Regions from separate parts of the Homo sapiens genome. Here region 2 is linked to region 1. The links come from fine-mapping of genetic effects on gene expression. A gene starts in region 1. The other region holds a variant in brackets. All regions are shown on one strand. Distances are from middle to middle.

Evidence for each region. PIP is the estimated chance that this variant, and not a neighbour inherited with it, causes the effect.
Region 2: its variant is fine-mapped to the expression of ATP11B in whole blood (INTERVAL, PIP above 0.99).

The regions. Positions count from the first base shown.
Region 1 is chr3:182,791,457-182,796,842 of GRCh38, reverse strand. It overlaps ATP11B (ATPase phospholipid transporting 11B (putative)), which reads right to left and starts at 3,339. Exons shown (of 30, transcript NM_014616.3): 1 at 3,057-3,339. The coding sequence starts at 3,083. It overlaps ATP11B-DT (ATP11B divergent transcript), which reads left to right and starts at 3,479. Exons shown (of 3, transcript NR_187316.1): 1 at 3,479-3,763. RefSeq lists a silencer at 2,755-3,504.
Region 2 is chr3:182,873,059-182,878,444 of GRCh38, reverse strand. ATP11B (ATPase phospholipid transporting 11B (putative)) reads right to left here. Exons shown (of 30, transcript NM_014616.3): 19 at 4,430-4,633. Among named protein-coding and RNA genes, the nearest start is that of ATP11B, 82 kb to the right of the region's middle. The variant A/G (reference allele first, on the strand shown) is at 3,207.

The DNA of each region.
Region 1 (5,386 bases):
TGGGCTAGTCAATCTTAAATTTGGTCATTTTTGTCTCTAAACACAGAAACAACACTACAGATTCATTCTTTCTTTCCTCATCTATTAATTATTTGTTCAGCAACATGTATCCAATGTCTACTTATGTAGAGTATGTGTGACCCTGACCAACATTTGTATCCCTGGTATTCAGCATCTGTTAATACCAGCACACAGCAAGTGCTTTAAAAATGTAGTATTACATTCAAATATGTACTGACACAGACTTTCATTTAAAAGTCTAAATTGGTGCTGTCCAATAGAATTTTCTGTGATAATGAAAATATGAACTGTCCAATATGGCAGCCAATGGCAGCCAATAGACACATGAATTCAAATTTTAATTTTAATACCCACATATGGCTCCAATTTTAATTTTAATGGCCACTTGTGGCTAATGGCTACCGTACAGGTCTAAATATTAGAATACAGTGAGTAGCTAATGGCATTTCCATAATTATAATCAAGGTATTGTCATCTCTAATGAGTTAATACATAAAATATGGTACTGAAAATGAGTATACTTTGAATAATACTAACTGTACCACAAAGACACCATAAGAGAATTTTCTTAGTGTCAAGTAACTTTAACATTGTGTGCCAAAAAGAAAAACAAAAAAGGATATTCCAATCTTTTTATTTTCAGCCTACTTTCCCAATAGAAAAGATCAAGCTTCTGTCAACTTTCTGATTTTTCCATCTTCTCAAGTAGTGAAAATATTTTGTCATAAGGAGTCACACTTTTTTTTAATTAAAAAGAAATTACTAGAACATAGGCATTGTTTCTGTAATAAAAGGACTTTTTTGTGAGACATTAGTTGAAAATCGGGATTCATATAACGAATTAAATATGCTTATAACTCCAACCTGTCCTTAGGATTTGCTTGTCAATTTCCCCAAATTTGTCCTAGTTATCTGCATTTTAAAATAAACCCATTGCTGAAAGTCGTGGTGATTCAATCCATTAAGCCACTGGAAGTATAATCTAAACTAGCTTTTACCTGAGTTGAATAATTTCTGGTGCAGTAATCAGAATAGCTGTCTATGACTGGGATAGCAAAATATACTTTCATTACTCTGTATCCAGGGTCCTTGATGTTTAATTTATGTGATCATACAAACTTAACCAGAGACACAAAGTCCTACATTGGCCCAAGTATGATTACATACTTAGAGGATCTGATAACTTAAAACCAGTGAGGTGAGCAACTAAATGTCAGAGATAGCATTTTTTATGCACAGGAACTTGTTCAACTCGTTAACCATCCCTGTTAAGACGGCTGCCTTGTAAAATAACCACACACAACTTCCGGCCCTTCCTTTTAGCTGGGTTCATTTGAAGCCATTTTAAAAAACATTACCAGGTTTTCTGTCTTGAAGATGAGCATGGTTATACAACCAGGATTTTATTCTGGCTAAAAAATACCTAACAGTGAGAAAGGATGTCTCAATACATTTTTAAAAAAGCTTCAAGAGAACCACTTTAAAATGATCTTCCTACCACACAAAAACACCATCAGGTAAATCAGCCCTCTATACAAGAAGATTTGGCAAATCAAAAGCATAAGATCAAATCTGTAATAATTAACTTTCTGAGTAAAATTACTGTGCTACAGCTTACTGCAACAAAGCCAAAGTATTACAAGATGGTATTATAATGACATCATTAGCTTGGTTTCCTAATAAAGCATATATCTGGGATATCTGAATTTACAATGCTAAAAACAGAGACCCAACATTTGTAGGAGGGAGTGGTAGGCAGTTCTTATTTATAATTTTTTTTTTTTTTTGAGAATGATGCCCGCTGCAAAACGAAGTAACAGAAGGCTGGCTCTGAAACACCACACTTCTTGGTCTTAACGTTAAAATGCTTTTCTAGAGCAGAAGGGAAAAAGAGTTATCAGTGCTTTCGTCCCACAAAAATAGTTCCTGTTTCACTAAATTTTACCACTGCCTTTAGAATTAGTAAATGAAAACGCCAACTTGTAGAAGCATTAAGTTAATGCGATTTAGAAATTAAATAGTAACCGGCCTCATCACACAGATAAGGTTAGGCTTCTTCAGCCAGGGGCAATTTCTGTCCTAATTGTCACAGCTGCCTTAATGCTGTACTTTCTGCGCTGTAGCTGCCAGGAGGCAGATAAGATTTTTCTCTCTGAATTAATTCTGGGAAAGGTGGCACTTTTTATAGGCCTTAAATGACCCTTTTCTAAGATTTTTTGTTGGTGGTGTCCAGATGTTCCAATAATACTGGAGAGTTAACTATTCCTTCCAAACCTGTGTCGTTCAAACTGCCTTGAGGAGAACGGGAAAAAAGTAAGGTTCACACTCGAAAAGTTTCACTCGGGGTGGGGTGAGGACGAGGTAGGAAGGAAACGACAGTACGTATCGTTCGTAACTATCGTACAATACGTATCGTTTCCGAAGCTAGACCGGCAGCTGGCACAGTCTTTCCCCTTTCCAGGTCCTGGGGAGAAACGTCTCTCGCTGAGGGGGCTAGACACCTACGACAGCCTCCTCCTCGGGAATCAACACAGCTCTGGATCGTGACACGCTTCCAGAAGTCCGTGACGAGTGGGGGCAGAAGACAGGTTCTTCGCTTCCCCTTCACCCAAACACGTCCCAAATTGTTCGAGGCAGGAAGAGCACGCCTCTCTCATCTCCCCAAGACCTACTCTCGCTCAGCTCCCTCGCCCTGTTTCCTCTGGGGGCACCGCCACCCCGCTCGGGACTCCCGCCTCTGGCCACAGCAGCCCCGGAGCGGCAAGGGGGAAGAAGTAACGGAGAAGCGCCGGCTAGAAGCGGCCGCCTCCGGCCGCTCGGCGCCAGCCTCGGCGGCCCGGGCTTGGAGGCGAGACGAGCCCGGGAGCCGCACGGGGCTTCTCCGGCTCTGGGCCCCGCGCCCGTCTCCGCTGCGGCCTAGCCGGGCGCCCACGCCCTGGCCTCCCGGCTCCGCGCCGCCGGCCTTTCCCCGCCACCCCGGGCCGAGAGGCCCCGCGGGGGCGGACGAATGGAGGTGGAGGGGCGGGGGCACCTACCAGCTGCTGCCGGATCCAGCGCCACATTCCCCCGTCGTCGCCGTCCGGGTCCCGCGGGGCGCGGGGGCCGCGGGGCTGCAGGTGGAGGCCGACAAGACAGAGGCGGGAGCGGGCGAGCCCCTCGGGCCGAAGTTCCGCTTACCGCCGCCGCCGCCACTGCCTCACTCCCCGCGCCGCGTCCCCATCCCGCGGCGTCGGCCCCGAGTCCTACAGGCGCGGCCCCGGCGCCGCCCCCGCCCGGCGCAGCTGAGCCTGCCGCCGCGCCGCAGCCACCTTCATTATTGACCGTTGTCACCCAAAGCACCCCCGCAACCCCACCCCCGCCCCGCCCCGCCCGGCCCCCCGGCTCCACCCGGGACCGCCCCCGGCGCCCCGGCCCGCCCCCGGACGTGACGAAAGGGGGTGCGCGGACCGAGGGGGGCCTGGCGCGCCCCGCCGCCGTTCCGAGTTGGGGGGTTTCTGTGTTGTGGGTCCGGGAAGAAGCGAGCGTGGAAAGGTGCCGGGTTCTCGAACGCTGTTTCTGTCCACTGCCACCCTCCTCCCCGTTCTGGGAGTGGGATTAAGTCGTGTCTGTGGGTCTGGCCATCTCCGGAGTCTGCAGCTTGGGGCCGATTCCTCGGTCTCTACCTCCTGTTGCAGGTCTTTTTCGGGCTCTGTGGCTTCTTTGGTTCACGCGTCTCCCGACACGCATACGCACAGTCCTGAACGTATGTGACTGAAAGTTAATCCCCCCAGAAGTCCCAGTTTGGGTTCCATCAAGCTGTAAGAGCTTTCGTCTCAACACAAGTCAGGCCTCTTCTTTAGCAAATGGCTGAGACGGGGCTAGGGAAATCTTGATCACACCCATTAAGTGATTCGAAAGCGTTGCAAGTCCCCTGAGCCTGGTACAGCCTGGACCCGTGTTTCTAGGCGAATGGATGAGATATTCTGTCTTGCCGTGTGCTAAATTGGACAGGTTCAGGGGAAGATAATTTGTATAAAAAGGTAGTTCTTTACTGCTAACTGCCAAACTTCTGCAATCAAAAACACCCGTAGCAGTAACTTGACCTAGGTTAAAAAAGTGTGTGGATGACAAGCTCAGAAGGAATATACAAGCAACTGGAACAAGGCTTTGACTTAAAGGTTTGGCGTTGTTTAAAAGCAGCCCCGTATACATATTGTGTTATGTATATGTATTGAATGCTGTATTTTTGCTGAATTAAAGCACACTTCACCGACAGACGTTTGTGGTTAAAAAAAAAAAAATTAAGCGGCCGGGCGCGGTGGCTCACGCCTGTAATCCCATGTAATCCCAGCACTTTGGGAGGCCGAGGCGGGTGGATCACGAGGTCAGGAGATCGAGACCTTCCTGGCTAACATGGCGAAACCCCATCTCTACTAAAAAATACAAAACATTAGCCGAGCGTGGTGGCGGTCGCCTGTAGTCCCAGCTACTCGGGAGGCTGAGGCAGGAGAATGACGTGAACCCGGGAGGCAGAGCTTGCAGTGAGCCGAGATGGCGCCACTGCACTCCAGCCTGGGCGGCAGAAGGAGACTCCGTCTCAAAAAAAAAAAAAAAAAAAAAAAATTAAGCAAGAACAAATCTAAATGAGATTAGCATGACTAGGCAGGTCGTTGAATATGCATCCTCAATCTTCTAGTTTCAGTAGACATTTCTTACTATATAATGCTTATCCAGCACCACAAATAGAATCTTTCTTTGGGGATATTTATGATCTGTAAAACCAACATGGAATTTTATATTATAAATCATCCAACTTCAAAAAATAGCTAGATATTTGAAAAGTCATCTTACTTTTATTCTTGTGGCTAAACCTTACTTTATGACCCTAAAAGGAAGTTTTGAGATATATTTAGTGACAAAACCTTACTGCCATTCATGGAGCACTGTGTCCATTCATGGAGCACCCAGGTCCTGTATCAAGTTCTTTACTTGTATGCTGTAATTTAACTCCAATCAATCCCTTGAAGTAGGTATTATTCCCGTTTTGTATAGATGCAGAAATGGAGGCTCACACTAATTTGGCAAAGCTAGGATTCAGATTCTGGATTGTCAGGCAATAGTGCTCATGTTCTTAAGCTACGTCCAAAAATAAAAATATGGCCATGCCTACTTTTATTCATCTGCAAATGGTTTGATTACAAATTAGGCCTGGAAATTTTTATTTATATGCCGCTAAAATTTTTCAAGATAACATAAGAAATAGCGATCTGGAGAATACTTTGTGTATCATTATTTAATTGTGCCCCAAATTTCAAAAGGAAGAAGTTGGGAGAAGGAAGGGCTTGATTCCTAGTGCTCTGGTGGAATATGGTAAGAAGTAATCTCA
Region 2 (5,386 bases), 82 kb before region 1:
AAGCTCCTTTATGTTGCTGAAAGCCAGTACTCAGTGTAGCACTGTGCTATATACACCACAAGAAAATACCGAAGGTTCACAGAATATCAGACTCTGCTGAGAACTATCCCTCCACTTAAAAATAAGAAGTGAGAAGACTATTAAATGAGCACACTATAAAAGCTAAACATATATTGATAGATTTTAGTCTTATAAGAAACTTTCGTAAGTTAAAGCAATGTCTTTCATAGTATGCCTAATCACTGTTGTGTTGTACTGTAGCTATAAGTGGTAAGCAATTCACTTTATACCATAAAGTTTTATAAAATGTATTTTTCTCATTACTACTAACTCTCCAATATCTGAAATCAACACCTATATAGACAATTTTTCTTCCCTATTGGCCAAACTTTATTTGGCAACTTGTGCTGCCTCCAATGTCTTCAGCCTGTCCAAAGCACTACCTGAGGAACAGGCCTCAGAAATGCTAGCAGTCAAGAGTGGGACAGAGCAGATCAGTTTTCCTAGGAAAAGTTCCCAAGGCACATGAAATTAGGTTTTCCTCTGGACAGGCTTCATGAATCACATTATGATCTTACAATCCATGGGATAATATTTAAGAAATATGGAAAAGCACCTACATCTCTGGCACGTAGGTAGCATTTACTCATCTCTGTAGCCCTCATGCATCACTACTCTTCATACCCTGTCCCATCTATACCACTCCCTGGCCATACTTTATAATTATTTCCTTGAATATGCCCTCCTCTCTCTCAGCTCTGGGAATCTGCACGCACTGCCCCCTTTGCTGCCTTTATTTTTCTGACACAGCAACTCACTCTGTCACCCAGGCTGGAGTGCAGTGGTGTGATCACAACTCACCACAGCCTTAACCTCCCTGATTCAATACATCCTCCCACCTCAGCCTCCCAAGACGCTGGGACTGCAGGTATGTGTCACCACACACGTCTAATTTTTGTATTGTTTGTAGAGACGGGGTTTCACTATGTTGCCCAGGCTGGTCTTGAACTTCTAGACTCAAGTGATCTGCCTTCCTTGGCCTCCCAAAGTGCTGGGATTATTGGCCACTGTGCCTGTAAGTCAGGATTATGAGCCACTGTGCCCAGCCTCCCGTTTGCTTCTTAGTGTCACTCTCTGTCCAGTGAACATTTCGCCCCACAGGAGGCAACACAGTCATTGGTTGTTCAGAGCTCTCCCTGGTACCCCTGGTCTAGGCTAGGCTTCTCTCTTCTGTCCTTCCAGAGCTTCTGTTCTTGCCTCAGATACAGTTCTGTAGGGATAGGACTATGACAGTGTATTTACTTTTCTGTTTTCCCTACACCAAGTATCCAAGGCATAAACAACACACCTTATGTCTCTGTTCCAAATGCCTAGACAGGTGACAATATATCTTTGTGAAGGAATGGATATATATACTAAAGCTTTCAAAGGCATGAAATTCTTTGTGCGACAGATTTTTATCAAGATTTAGGATACTTCCTGAAAGTCTGTGAATGAATGGGCCTATTGACTTCTATGGTTATCTCATAAAATATATTCCATCAAAAGATACCTCTAAAATATAACATAAATTTCACATAGAAAGTGCTATGGTTTGAATGTCGAATCCCTTCCAAAATTAATGTGGAAAGTTAACCCCCATTGTTATGAAGTGGGGCCTTTTCGGAAGTGATTAAGTCATAATGGCTTTGCCTTCATGAATGGATTAATGCTCTGATAAAAGAGGCTTCAGAGATTTGCCCTCTCTTGCCTTTCGTCCCTTCCACCATGTGTGGACACAGTAATCCTCCCTTCAGAAGGATGCAGCAATAAGGCACCATTTTGGAACAGGGAGCAGCCCTCACTATACAACTTGCTGGTGCCTTGATCTTCAACTTCCCAGCCTCCAGAATTGTGAAAAATAAATTTCTGTTCTTTATAAATTACCTAGTCTCAGGTATTTTGTTACAGCAGCACAAACAGACTAAGACGGCAAGCCTAAAATTCACTTTAAGAGTGTACTCTACGTTTTATAATACAGCTTTTGTACAGAAAAGAAAACAAATACTAATGATTAGCATATTCATTAAAACCACCTATATACAGAAGACTTAAAGAAAATAGCCTAAATTACAAATAATAATCTTCTGATGACTTTGTTATTAACCACTGCATAAGCTTTACAATTTTCAGTATTTTTCAAGTAGACATTTATTATTTTTATAATCAGAAAAATATTTTTTAAAATTATTTTTATTTTTTAGGCAAGAGCACAGTTCACTGTAGCCTTGAACTTCTGGGCTCAAGTGATCCTCTTGTCTCAGCTTTCGGAGTAACTGGGACTACAGGTACACACCCCCACACCTGGATAATTTTTAAATTTCTTGTGGGGACAGGGTCTCATTACATTGACCAGGCTGATCTCAAACTCCTGGGCTCAAGCGATCCACCTCAGCCTCCCAGGGTGTTGGGATTACAGGCATGAGCTACTGTGCCCAGCCAGAAAAAAATATTTAAAAAGGCATATATAAAGTAAATGATTCTGAGCAATTAATTTCTGTGTTTTAGGGAGTTCATGATATTGCAGTATTTAAACGTTTAAATAGCCACAATGTTGTTGACACTGTCCCCAAATTGTAGTATAATTACCTAAATTAATTGTCTTTTTGCACTCAAAGATCCAGTGTGACCCTATTTAAGAGATATTTTAAGAAGACCCTATATGGGCCGGGTGCGGTGGCTCACACCTATAATCCCAGCACTTTGGGAGGCCAAGGCAGGCAGATCACCTGAGGTCAGGTGTTCGAGACCAGCCTGACCAATGCAGAGAAACCCTGTCTTTACTAAAAATACAAAATTAGCTGGGCACGGTGGTGCATGCCTGTAATCCCAGCTACGCAGGAGGCTGAGGCAGGAGAATCACTTGAACCCGGAAGGCGGAGGTTGTGGTGAACCGAGTGCGTCATTGCACTCCAGCCTGGGCAACAAGAGTGAAACTCTGTCTCAAAAAACAAACAAACAACAACAACAACAAAACAACAACAACAAAAAATCCCCTGCATGGTCTTTTTAAAATATCTCTTAAATAGGTTTTAAAAAGATGAAATCCAGACTTGGTATCACATAAATGCCTGCATAAAAAATATAAATAGAAAACACTGAATGTATATTAACAACTATGGTATTTGTCTCTTGGTATTTATTTTTCTGGATTAGTATCACAAGAC[A/G]GCAAACAACAGAAACCTGCAGGAGACCTAATATGCTTACATACAAGCAGCTCTGATGGTCAAATGAAGCCCTTCCTAGTTTACTGTGAAAAATTAGACTGTGTTAAATGGGGCATCATTTGCCCCCATACAGGGCAAAAATTTGATATGCCTATAAAAGATAGATTTACAAAAAAGACAGAATTTAGAGTATAAATTCTTATGAAATAATCTTGAACAATTAAATGCAGCTTAATTTCCCAGTTTGGTCATGCAAACTAGATCAGGGGTTGGCAAATGTTTTCTGTTACGGGCCAGAGAGTAAATATTTCAATTTTAGGTTTTGTGGGCCAAGAGGCAAAATTGAGGATATAGGTAGTTACAGAATGAGAGGAAAAAATCTCAACAAAATTTTCACTAAGATAAAAATGTAGTAATCATTGAGTATAATTTTTTAAATAAGAGAGGTTTACTAATGAGAAGAATGAAAATACTTCTTTTGGGCAAGGGATAGTACTTTGTTTAATTGGGGTTCAAAGTTAACATTGCAAATGTTCATCTGTTAATGTCCATCTGTAACGAGATTTTTACATTTCCATACGATAGAACTGTATGTAATGAGATTTATAATTCATCTTTGAAAATGTCTTTTCAAACAGGTAGCACAGCTAACATATCAATGCATAATAAACAATGCTTTGCCATCTAACTCAAAAATAAAATAATCCCCTATCCACAGTGCTTCAAAAAAAATCGTAATGTTAAAAGTCCACTTTTCTTTTCTTGTTTTGACATGATGGCCATATACTAATAAAAAACAGTAAAATGTCGCAACATGGTGCTATGCATGGCACTCCAAACACTATCACATTATATGTATCTCACTGTGATTTGTAGAGTATCAAACAGCAGTGTAAAGCTGAAGAGAGAGTATTTTGTAAAGTCTCTGCTGCAACTACTCAATTCTGATGCTGTAGTGTAAAAGCACTCATTGGTAATATGTAAACAAATGAATGTGATTGTGTTCCAATCAAACTTTATAGACACTGGAATTTGAATTTCATATACTTTTCACTTCATGAAATATTCTTCTTCTTTGGATTTCATCTATCAAAAAATGTAAAAACTACTTTTAGCTGATAGGCTGTAAAAAACAGGCAGTGACAGTGGGCTATATCATCGGGCCCAGGGAACCATAGTTTGCTAACCCCTGAAAGGTATGATACAGGTTCCTATATTCTTACCTTCTGGCAAGCTGCCTCAATTGTTCAGCACACTCGCTGTCTGATTTCTGGTTTATAAGTTCAAGGATGTTCATGGTTCTATGAAAATGGCCACATGATAAACTCACACTAACAGCTGTTTCATGTTTATCCCCAGTAAGTACCCATACTTTGATACCAGCCATTCTCAATGCTTCAATAGTTTCTCGAACTTTATCTTGTAGTCTGAAAAGAACAGAAACAAATTAGTAGTAGAGAATACTTTTATGACTGTATTTTAAGTTAAACTACATAGTATATTTAAGGATAATTCTAAACTCTTTGACTTGACCTAGGAATGTTATTATACAATATAGCAATATAACTGGAATTTTCTCTCATTAGGAAGGAAACACGAATAAACAGATTGGTAATTGTCTGGTTAACACAAAATCAACCAATTAAAATCTACAATTTCATATTTTAAGAATGTATCTTCAAAGTTGCTATTCATAGGATGAAACTATGTGCTCTTCATAAACTCCTGTTTTATTACGAAGTCTTACATTTCAAACAAGAAGATTTTTCTCCTTTTGTTTTGATTTAAAAAAATATCTCAAACCACTCATATAGTTAAAAAATCAGACTGTAGAAAATAAAGGTCTAGCTAACTTTAGGTGAGTCTCAGAAATCTCGTAAGGACAACCAAAAAGTAAATGAAAACATAGATTTTAAAAATATGCAAACACCCTTAGGTCTAGGTGGTGGAGGCAAACATAACAACAAACTTAATCTGCAGAATTCAATCTCAGAATTCAGCTAAATTTAAGAAACTGTGAAACAGACATTGAGATAGGTTCTGGGAACAAAGACAAAGAATAAATGGACTTCAAGGATTTCACAGGTTAACAGAGGAGAAGTCTTTAAACAAATAATTATAATATAGTGCCACAAAGACAACAACAGAACTACCTACAATGAGACTTCACAAAGAAGAGA